Linked DNA regions of Homo sapiens. The protein of the gene in region 1 binds, or shares a complex with, the protein of each later gene. Each region holds a gene or a part of one and is shown in the gene's direction. Other genes may lie near its edges.

The links.
Region 2: the proteins of NTF4 (region 1) and NTRK2 are in contact, whole or in part, in a crystal structure (PDB 1HCF), measured with the Homo sapiens proteins. Residues at the interface, in NP_001382418.1 of Homo sapiens: Gly81, Val82, Ser83, Glu84, Thr85, Ala86, Ser89, Arg90, Arg91, Gly92, Glu93, Leu94, Ala95, Asp98, Ala99, Ser101, Gly102, Trp103, Thr105, Tyr135, Phe137; in NP_001018074.1 of Homo sapiens: Phe291, Glu293, Thr296, Ser297, Asp298, His299, Cys302, Pro304, Thr306, His335, Val336, His343, Gly344, Cys345, Asn350, Thr352, His353, Met379, Gly380, Trp381, Pro382, Gly383.

What each region holds. Positions count from the first base shown.
Region 1 is NC_000019.10:49,063,082-49,066,982, reverse strand, and holds the start of NTF4 (neurotrophin-4 preproprotein), read left to right. Parts: upstream 1-2,164; 5' UTR 2,165-3,244; exon of another isoform or gene 3,245-3,367; intron 3,368-3,901. UniProt on the Homo sapiens protein: Target-derived survival factor for peripheral sensory sympathetic neurons. May promote ameloblast differentiation and subsequent reduction in proliferation of ameloblasts.
Region 2 is NC_000009.12:84,667,487-84,671,387, forward strand, and holds the start of NTRK2 (BDNF/NT-3 growth factors receptor isoform a precursor), read left to right. Parts: upstream 1-2,242; 5' UTR 2,243-2,402; exon of another isoform or gene 2,403-2,735; intron 2,736-2,862; exon of another isoform or gene 2,863-2,890; 5' UTR 2,891-3,262; coding exon 3,263-3,474; intron 3,475-3,901. UniProt on the Homo sapiens protein: Receptor tyrosine kinase involved in the development and the maturation of the central and the peripheral nervous systems through regulation of neuron survival, proliferation, migration, differentiation, and synapse formation and plasticity.

The sequences.
Region 1 (3,901 bases):
AGAGAAATCCAAGGGCAAGGGGGAAGAGGGCAGATGGCCGGGAGCGGGAACAGAGACCCCCACGAGGGGAAAGAGAAGCAGACAGTGACCCCAAGAGAGAGGATGCAAGAGGCTCAGCAAGAAGGAGACTGGGACCCAGAGAGGGTGGACAGATATCCAGAGAGAAGAAAACTGGGACCTAGAAAGAGGGGGACAGAGACCCAGAGAGAAGGGGGGACAGAGACCTGGGGGGGAACAGAGACCCAGAGAGAGGGGGGACAGAGATCCAGAGACAGAGAGAGAGACAGAGACCCAGAGAGTGAAGGGGACAGAGACCCAGAGAGAGAGGGGGACAGAGACCCAGAGAGAGAGGGACAGAGACCCACAGACAGAAGGGGACAGAGACCCAGAGAGAGAGGGGGACAGAGACCCAGAGAGAGAGGGACAGAGACCCAGAGAGAGAGGGGGACAGAGACTCAGAGAGAGAAGGACAGACCCAGAGTTGGAGGGAGACAGAAATCCAGAGGGAGGGGAACAGAGACCTGGAGATAGGGGGACAGAGACTGTTTCCCAGTCACTCTGTTTGGAAACCTCATCCCTACTATCCCCTCCAGGACTAGAAGCTAGAAGCTAGAAGCTAGAGTCCTCCTGCTATGCGGCAGGATGTATTGGCTGTTTAGGAACAGGGGAAGGGTGGAGAAGCCGGAGAGGTGACCTGAATGCACACCCAAAGCCTGGGAAGTGGCCCTTCCCCCCACCCCCAATAAATAACTGGAGCGGCCTTGTGTGTTGCCTTGGCTGGGATGGTGAGGAGCAGGAAACACCCTAACCGGGGACACCCTCCTGCCACCTTGCCATGCTATATTTAGGCTGAGGGGGTGTGGGATGACCCTCGAGGCAGGTGTCAGTTTTCCTTCTGAAAATAGCGCAGGCGGAGGGGAGCGGAGTCTCAGGGTAGAGGTGTGGTGGGGTGAGGAGCCCCGCTGCCCTCATGACTGTCCTGAGACACTCCGGCTCCGGTCCCATCCCTGTCTTTCTCAGGGTCTCTCAGGGGCTCTGTCCCCTTCTCGGGGGGGTGGGGGGGTCTGCCCTCACGCTCTCTGGGCCTCTGTCTTCTCTCTGGGCTCCTGCCCTCCCCCACTCTCTCTAGTCTCGGTCCCCCTCTTTCTTTTGGTCTCTCCCCACTTTTCCATGTCTTCTCCCTATCTCTCCCTTCATGTCACCGCGCACCATTTCTCAAGGTAGCTGATTGTTCTTAAGACACATCTGTCTATCTCTGGTCCTATGATACCTTGCACGTCTCTTATCTGAGCTCAGGACAAGACCTTCTCCCCGGTCCCCAGCCAGGAAATTCCAGGGGAGAGGAGTATGCGGGAGCCCCCACATCCACTGTCTCCCCGGGCCTGGGGCCTTATCACTGCCCAAGCCCAGCTGGTTAATGTCTGGCGTGGAGCTCCTGGGAAGTGGGGAGGAGAGCAGAGGGTGGGAATCTGCCCCGGGATTGACACGCAATTGGCAAAAGACGGCAAAGGAATCTCAGGCCCAGACTCCTGGGGCTAATGGAGGAGGAGGCTGGGGGCTGGACTCCTGAGTCTGAGACGGGGCGGGGTTGGGAGGTGGTGGGGGGAACTGTGGGCTTAGTACTCAGGCGCCTGGGGCTGGGGGGAGAGGTGGCTGGGGTCGCAAGTCCTGGGTCTGAGGGAGGAGGGGCCGGATGCCTGGACTCCTGGGTCTGAAGGGAGGAGGGGCTGGGGGCCTGGACTGCTAGGTCCAAAGGAGGAGGCAGCTGGAAACTGGGACTCCTGTGACCAAGGCGGCCGCGTTGAACGAGCCAGGCCTGGCTTCCAAGGTCCCGGCACGCGAGTGCAAGGCAGGATCCCCCGGCCCCTCCTCTGCCGCCCGGCGCCGCCCCGCCCCCGCCCCCGACCCGGGCCCTGCGGAGCGTGAGCAGCTAGCACCCGGCGGGCCAGCGAGCGTCCCTGCAGCCAGCGAGCAGGAGGAGGAGCTGCTGCCGGGCGGAGGGCAGCCGCGGGAGCCGAAGAGGGCGCCCCAGGTAAGATCTCCACTCCTCCTCCCTCGGGATTCCGGCGTCCTGGTCGCCCTGCCCTCGGGTGGGGAGGGACGGGGGCGGGGCCGACCGGGGCGGGGCTTGGCGGAGGAAACTGAGGCAAGAGGGAAGTGTCCCAGATATGCAGCCGGTTTCCCCTGAGGGGTCTCGGAGTCCGGAACCCCCAACCCAAATCTGGAGGATGAGGAACCCGGAGTCTGCATTTCTTAGTATCCGAGAAGGAGGGGCCTGAATTCCAGAACTCCTGGGTCTGAGAGAGGAGGGCACTGGGGGCCTGGATTCCTGGGTCTGAGGGAGAAGGGCGCTGGGGGCATGGACTCCTGGGTCTGAAGGAGGAGGGCGCTGGGGACCTGGACTCCAGGGTCTGAGGGAGAAGGGTGCTGGGGGCCTGGGCCTGGACTCCTCCTGGGTCTGAGGGAGAAGGGTGCTGGGGGCCTGGACTTCTGGGTCTGAGAGAGGAGGGCGCTGGGGGCCTGGACTACTCCTGGGTCTGAGGGAGGAGGGCGCTGGGGATCTGAACTCCTGGGTCTGAAGGTGGAGGCCCTGGGGTCTGCACTACTCGGTCTGAGGGAGAAGGCGGTCCTGGTTGGGTCAGCCTGGGCTCCTTTCACTCTCCACCCTTCCCCTTTCCTGTACCGAGGAGCCAGGGCAGGCAGCCACTCCAGGTATGTGCAGAAGTCTTGGGCGGGCCCTGGCCTGTCCTGTGAGGAGGGAACATTCCAGGAAGCAGCTTGGGGAACCAGGGCTTCTTGAGTGTGGGCCCTCAGGGACCCGGGTGTCCAGGCCAGTTCCGCCCCATCTGGGAGATGAATGGGCCGAGGGGGATGTAATCTCTTCCAGCCTCCTTCATCCACTGCCTCTCCCTTCCCCTATTCTCCCTTCCCCTCCCTCCATCTGCTTCCCATCCCAGCCAGGAGCCATCACCTGGGTAGAAAAGGGGCCTCTGGAAAGGGGGCGGGGCCTTGACTCTTGGGTACCCTGCACTTGAAGAGGAACTCTGGGAAGGGGTTGTTCAGGGATTTGGCCCCTTCCCCACCTGCCTCTATAACCTGTCTATTCTTTTCTTCCCCTAGGTGGTTGCCCCCTCCCTCTCCTGAGATGTCAGGAAGGAGGGGGCCACCTGTGTCCTCCACAGGGGCCCCCCGAAGCCTGGGGACTCCCAGCCCCAGAGCTCCGAGGCGGAGGAGGTGCTGACAGGTCTGGTAACTACTGACTGTTTCCCAGTCTTCTCCACGCCACCCTTTCCCAGAACCACAGGCTTCCAGAATGTTGTAGGGAAACTGCAAAATCCGCGCCTCCACCAGCCTCTCCCAGCGCCAGGTCAATTTCACACACAGGGAAACTGAAGCCTGCCTCAGAGGGGCAGCGTTTTACCTCCTTAGTGGCAGTTTTGAGGTGAACTGGGGTCTCCCTAGGATTCCAGGTTGTGACCTTTCTCTAAATTGTGGAATGTGGCCAGGCGTGGTGGCTTGAGTCTGTAGTCCCAGCTACTCAGGAGGCTGAGGCAGGAGAATGCCATGAACTTGGGAGGCGGAGCTTGCAGTGAGCCAAGATCGTGCCACTGCACTCCAGCCTGGGCGACAGAGGGAGATTCCATCTCAAAAAAAAAAAAAAAAAAATTTTGTTTGGGACCAGGCATGGTGGCTTATGCTTGTAATCCCAGCACTTTGGGAGGCCAGGACACGACTATTGCTTGAGGTTGGGAGTTCAAGACCAGTCTGGCCAACATGGTGAAACCCCATCTCTATTAAAAATACAAAAATTAGCTGGGCACAGTGGCAGGTGCTTGTAATCCCACCTACTCAGAAGGCTGAGGCAGGAGAATCACTTGAACCCAGGAGGCAGACATTGCAG
Region 2 (3,901 bases), on another chromosome or scaffold:
ATTAGAAGTAGGACCGCAAATCCTAATTTTAAGTGGGAGATAGTGGAATATATTTAGAATCCAACTATAATAGTAGCATATATTTACTCTAATAGAAACTCTACAAATATTCCAACATAATTAGACTCTTCTGGTGTACAAACCACCGTAAGACTGCCTATTCTCCATACCGCATTGACATGCTGCAGCCACTAGGGCGAAAATGGGCCGTTTCTTAGAAAAATGGGCTCAGAGTATGGGAGTGTGAGAGAAATGTGGGTGATTACGCACACACTCCTTCCTTCCCCAAGTGTTCCTCAGGGGCTTCTCCGCTTAAGGTTCACTGACAAGACAGGCGGAGTTTTACGTGCGTCTGAGACCAGGTCATTTTTGCCCTTGGCGTCTCTTCCTTGGCGCGTCCTCACCTAGTAGAGAATAGAGGCGCAGCTCAGGAGTAAACTTCAGCCTGGCCGTTCACCACTCGATGTGTGTTACAGCCGAGTGACAGTGGTGAGATAGACCTGCTGGCCTTGCTTTCGGGACCTGCAGCAAGATTTTTGGGTGCTGTCCAAGAATTCCCGCGGTTACACTCAGCGCCCAGGATCTGTACAAAAAAGCCCCAATAGATGTTTTACGTTCCCTTCGTAATATTTAACGCTTGGCCTAGATCCGAGCATTCACTCTAACGTTCGGTTTCTTGATCCTTCCCATCCCCAAACTCTGCGGGTAGATCAGTGACTATTACTATATTTTGAACGAGACTCCAACCCATTGCTCTCTCGAGAGAGAAGGATTGCCCGCCTTTTTCCCCCGGGCAGGAGCTCGGCGAGGCCAGGAGAGCCGCGCACCGGCCGGGCAGGGACGCGCAGGCGTCGGGCGCCGCTGGTTGCGCATCTGGCGCCAGAGCGCGCCCCCAGCGCTGTGCCCGCCGCGACCCGGGCCATGGGCTGGTGCTCCGGAGCGTGCCGGGCGCTCTCTCCCCGCGCGGGGGCACCAGAGCCCTCGGAAGTGTCAGGCACTGCGGTGTATTTTCCCCGTTCTCTTTTAAATGACTGCGGAAAAACAGATTCCGAGCCGCAAAAGGGAAGACGGATTCTCAGACAAGGCTTGCAAATGCCCCGCAGCCATCATTTAACTGCACCCGCAGAATAGTTACGGTTTGTCACCCGACCCTCCCGGATCGCCTAATTTGTCCCTAGTGAGACCCCGAGGCTCTGCCCGCGCCTGGCTTCTTCGTAGCTGGATGCATATCGTGCTCCGGGCAGCGCGGGCGCAGGGCACGCGTTCGCGCACACCCTAGCACACATGAACACGCGCAAGGTACGGCAGGGGAGCAAGGGCTTGGGATGCCCTACGTGGGGGTGGGCATCGCGGGGAGTGAATCCACGATCTGGGAATGGCTACATCCCGTCAGGTTAAAGGATGAGAGAAAATGACGCGGCGCCACACATCGGACAGGCCAGGGTGGCCACCGAGCATTTAGAATACGCATCAGGCGCGCTCCCTTCCCCTCACATGTCTCTATTTCCCGGGCGTGTGATGGCAGAAAACGGCAGGAAAAAGACCCACTTAGAGAGCTAGAATTGTGTTTGGAGACTCCCTTCCCTCTGCAAAAGCACCAACAGGAAGCCCCTCCAAAACCACCGATCCCCAAATAGGTGGCCCGGAATGGGGGCGGTGATCCTTGGTTACCAATGCAGAACACGTTTTGGTGTTTACAACATTTATTTATTTTTAGGATAGCTTGCCCTCCCTTTTAGGCAGGGTGGGAAAGGAGAACGCGGGGAGGGAGAAGGGAGGGAGGATTCCTATAATAAGAATCAGCGCATTTTTCAGAGCTGAACCAAGCACGGTTTCCATTTCAAAAAGGGAGACAGCCTCTACCGCGATTGTAGAAGAGACTGTGGTGTGAATTAGGGACCGGGAGGCGTCGAACGGAGGAACGGTTCATCTTAGAGGTACCTGGATGTAAATGCACACACACACACAGACACACACACGCACGCGCGTGCATGTCTACACGGCCAGGATGTGTGCGTGTGTGCGCGCGTGTGTGAACTCCCACATGCTGCTGCTGTCTGCTTCTGGCCAGTGGCACCGATGCCTCCCTCCTCCCTGCTCGCCCCCAGATTCCCCTCCCCTCCCTGGTGCTTTTGTCTGGAGGGTGTTATGGGTTTGTGTGTGTATGAGCGTGTGTGTGTTTTTGGATTTCAGACTAATTTTCTGGAGTTTCTGCCCCTGCTCTGCGTCAGCCCTCACGTCACTTCGCCAGCAGTAGCAGAGGCGGCGGCGGCGGCTCCCGGAATTGGGTTGGAGCAGGAGCCTCGCTGGCTGCTTCGCTCGCGCTCTACGCGCTCAGTCCCCGGCGGTAGCAGGAGCCTGGACCCAGGCGCCGCCGGCGGGCGTGAGGCGCCGGAGCCCGGGTGAGCAGCGCAGATAGTGCCCTCGGTCGCCTCGGCCCTCACTGTCTCCCCCTGGGGCGGCCTCGGCTACTCCCCAGGTGGGACGTGCCGCGCCACCTGCCCGCGCCACCGGCACCCAGCGGCCGTGGCGGATTCTGCAGCATCATTCGGGGGCCCCGTCGCGGAGCCAAAGCCGCCGGCAGTCTCCGCATTCCCCTTTAAAGGGTCCTTCGCCCGGCCTGTACCATGGAATCCTGTCTTGGGGACCCTTTCCCTACCTCCCCTCCCTTGGCCTCAGGCTCGAAGAGAGAGTGGGCACACTGGTGGCTCCAGCGGCGTCAGTGCCATCGCGGGGCAAGTTGATTCCTGGGCCGGAGCTGGGCACTCATCCATCCACAGTCTCCGGGCTGGGGTCGGGGTGGGGATGACGCGAGCAGAGAGGGAGAGTGCCCCAATTAGTGGTGTTGGGGGTCCTACGCTCAGTCTTACGCGTGTCTGTTTGTCCTCAGCCTCGAGGTGCATACCGGACCCCCATTCGCATCTAACAAGGAATCTGCGCCCCAGAGAGTCCCGGGAGCGCCGCCGGTCGGTGCCCGGCGCGCCGGGCCATGCAGCGACGGCCGCCGCGGAGCTCCGAGCAGCGGTAGCGCCCCCCTGTAAAGCGGTTCGCTATGCCGGGGCCACTGTGAACCCTGCCGCCTGCCGGAACACTCTTCGCTCCGGACCAGCTCAGCCTCTGATAAGCTGGACTCGGCACGCCCGCAACAAGCACCGAGGAGTTAAGAGAGCCGCAAGCGCAGGGAAGGCCTCCCCGCACGGGTGGGGGAAAGCGGCCGGTGCAGCGCGGGGACAGGCACTCGGGCTGGCACTGGCTGCTAGGGATGTCGTCCTGGATAAGGTGGCATGGACCCGCCATGGCGCGGCTCTGGGGCTTCTGCTGGCTGGTTGTGGGCTTCTGGAGGGCCGCTTTCGCCTGTCCCACGTCCTGCAAATGCAGTGCCTCTCGGATCTGGTGCAGCGACCCTTCTCCTGGCATCGTGGCATTTCCGAGATTGGAGCCTAACAGTGTAGATCCTGAGAACATCACCGAAATGTGAGTTCCTGGAGCTTTTCCTCCTTTTTCTCCTTGCCCCTAGGGCCCGAGCTGGCCAGGTGGGTAGGTCCTGGAAGTGAATGCTGTCCCAAGAGTGGGGAGAAGTCAAAGACAAGGGATGCAGGACAGGGTCATCTGTCAGTTACCTGCTGTTTCACTGGCTTGGGACTGCTAGTGCAGGGAGAAGTGTGACACTTTAGAATAAGTTTCAAATATAGATATACATATGCCGATTATATATTTATTCCTCGTGGGAAGGAACTCACTATGCTTTTTATATTTCAAAGCTCTGCTGGGTGTGCTTTAGGCTTTCAGTATGCACTAACTTAGTTTTGGGCATTTTTGTTTCATAAAGTGCTGTGTGTATGTTGTGTTAGAAGTTCCATTAATATTCACTAGAAAAGAGGTTAAAATAATTAACTTTCCC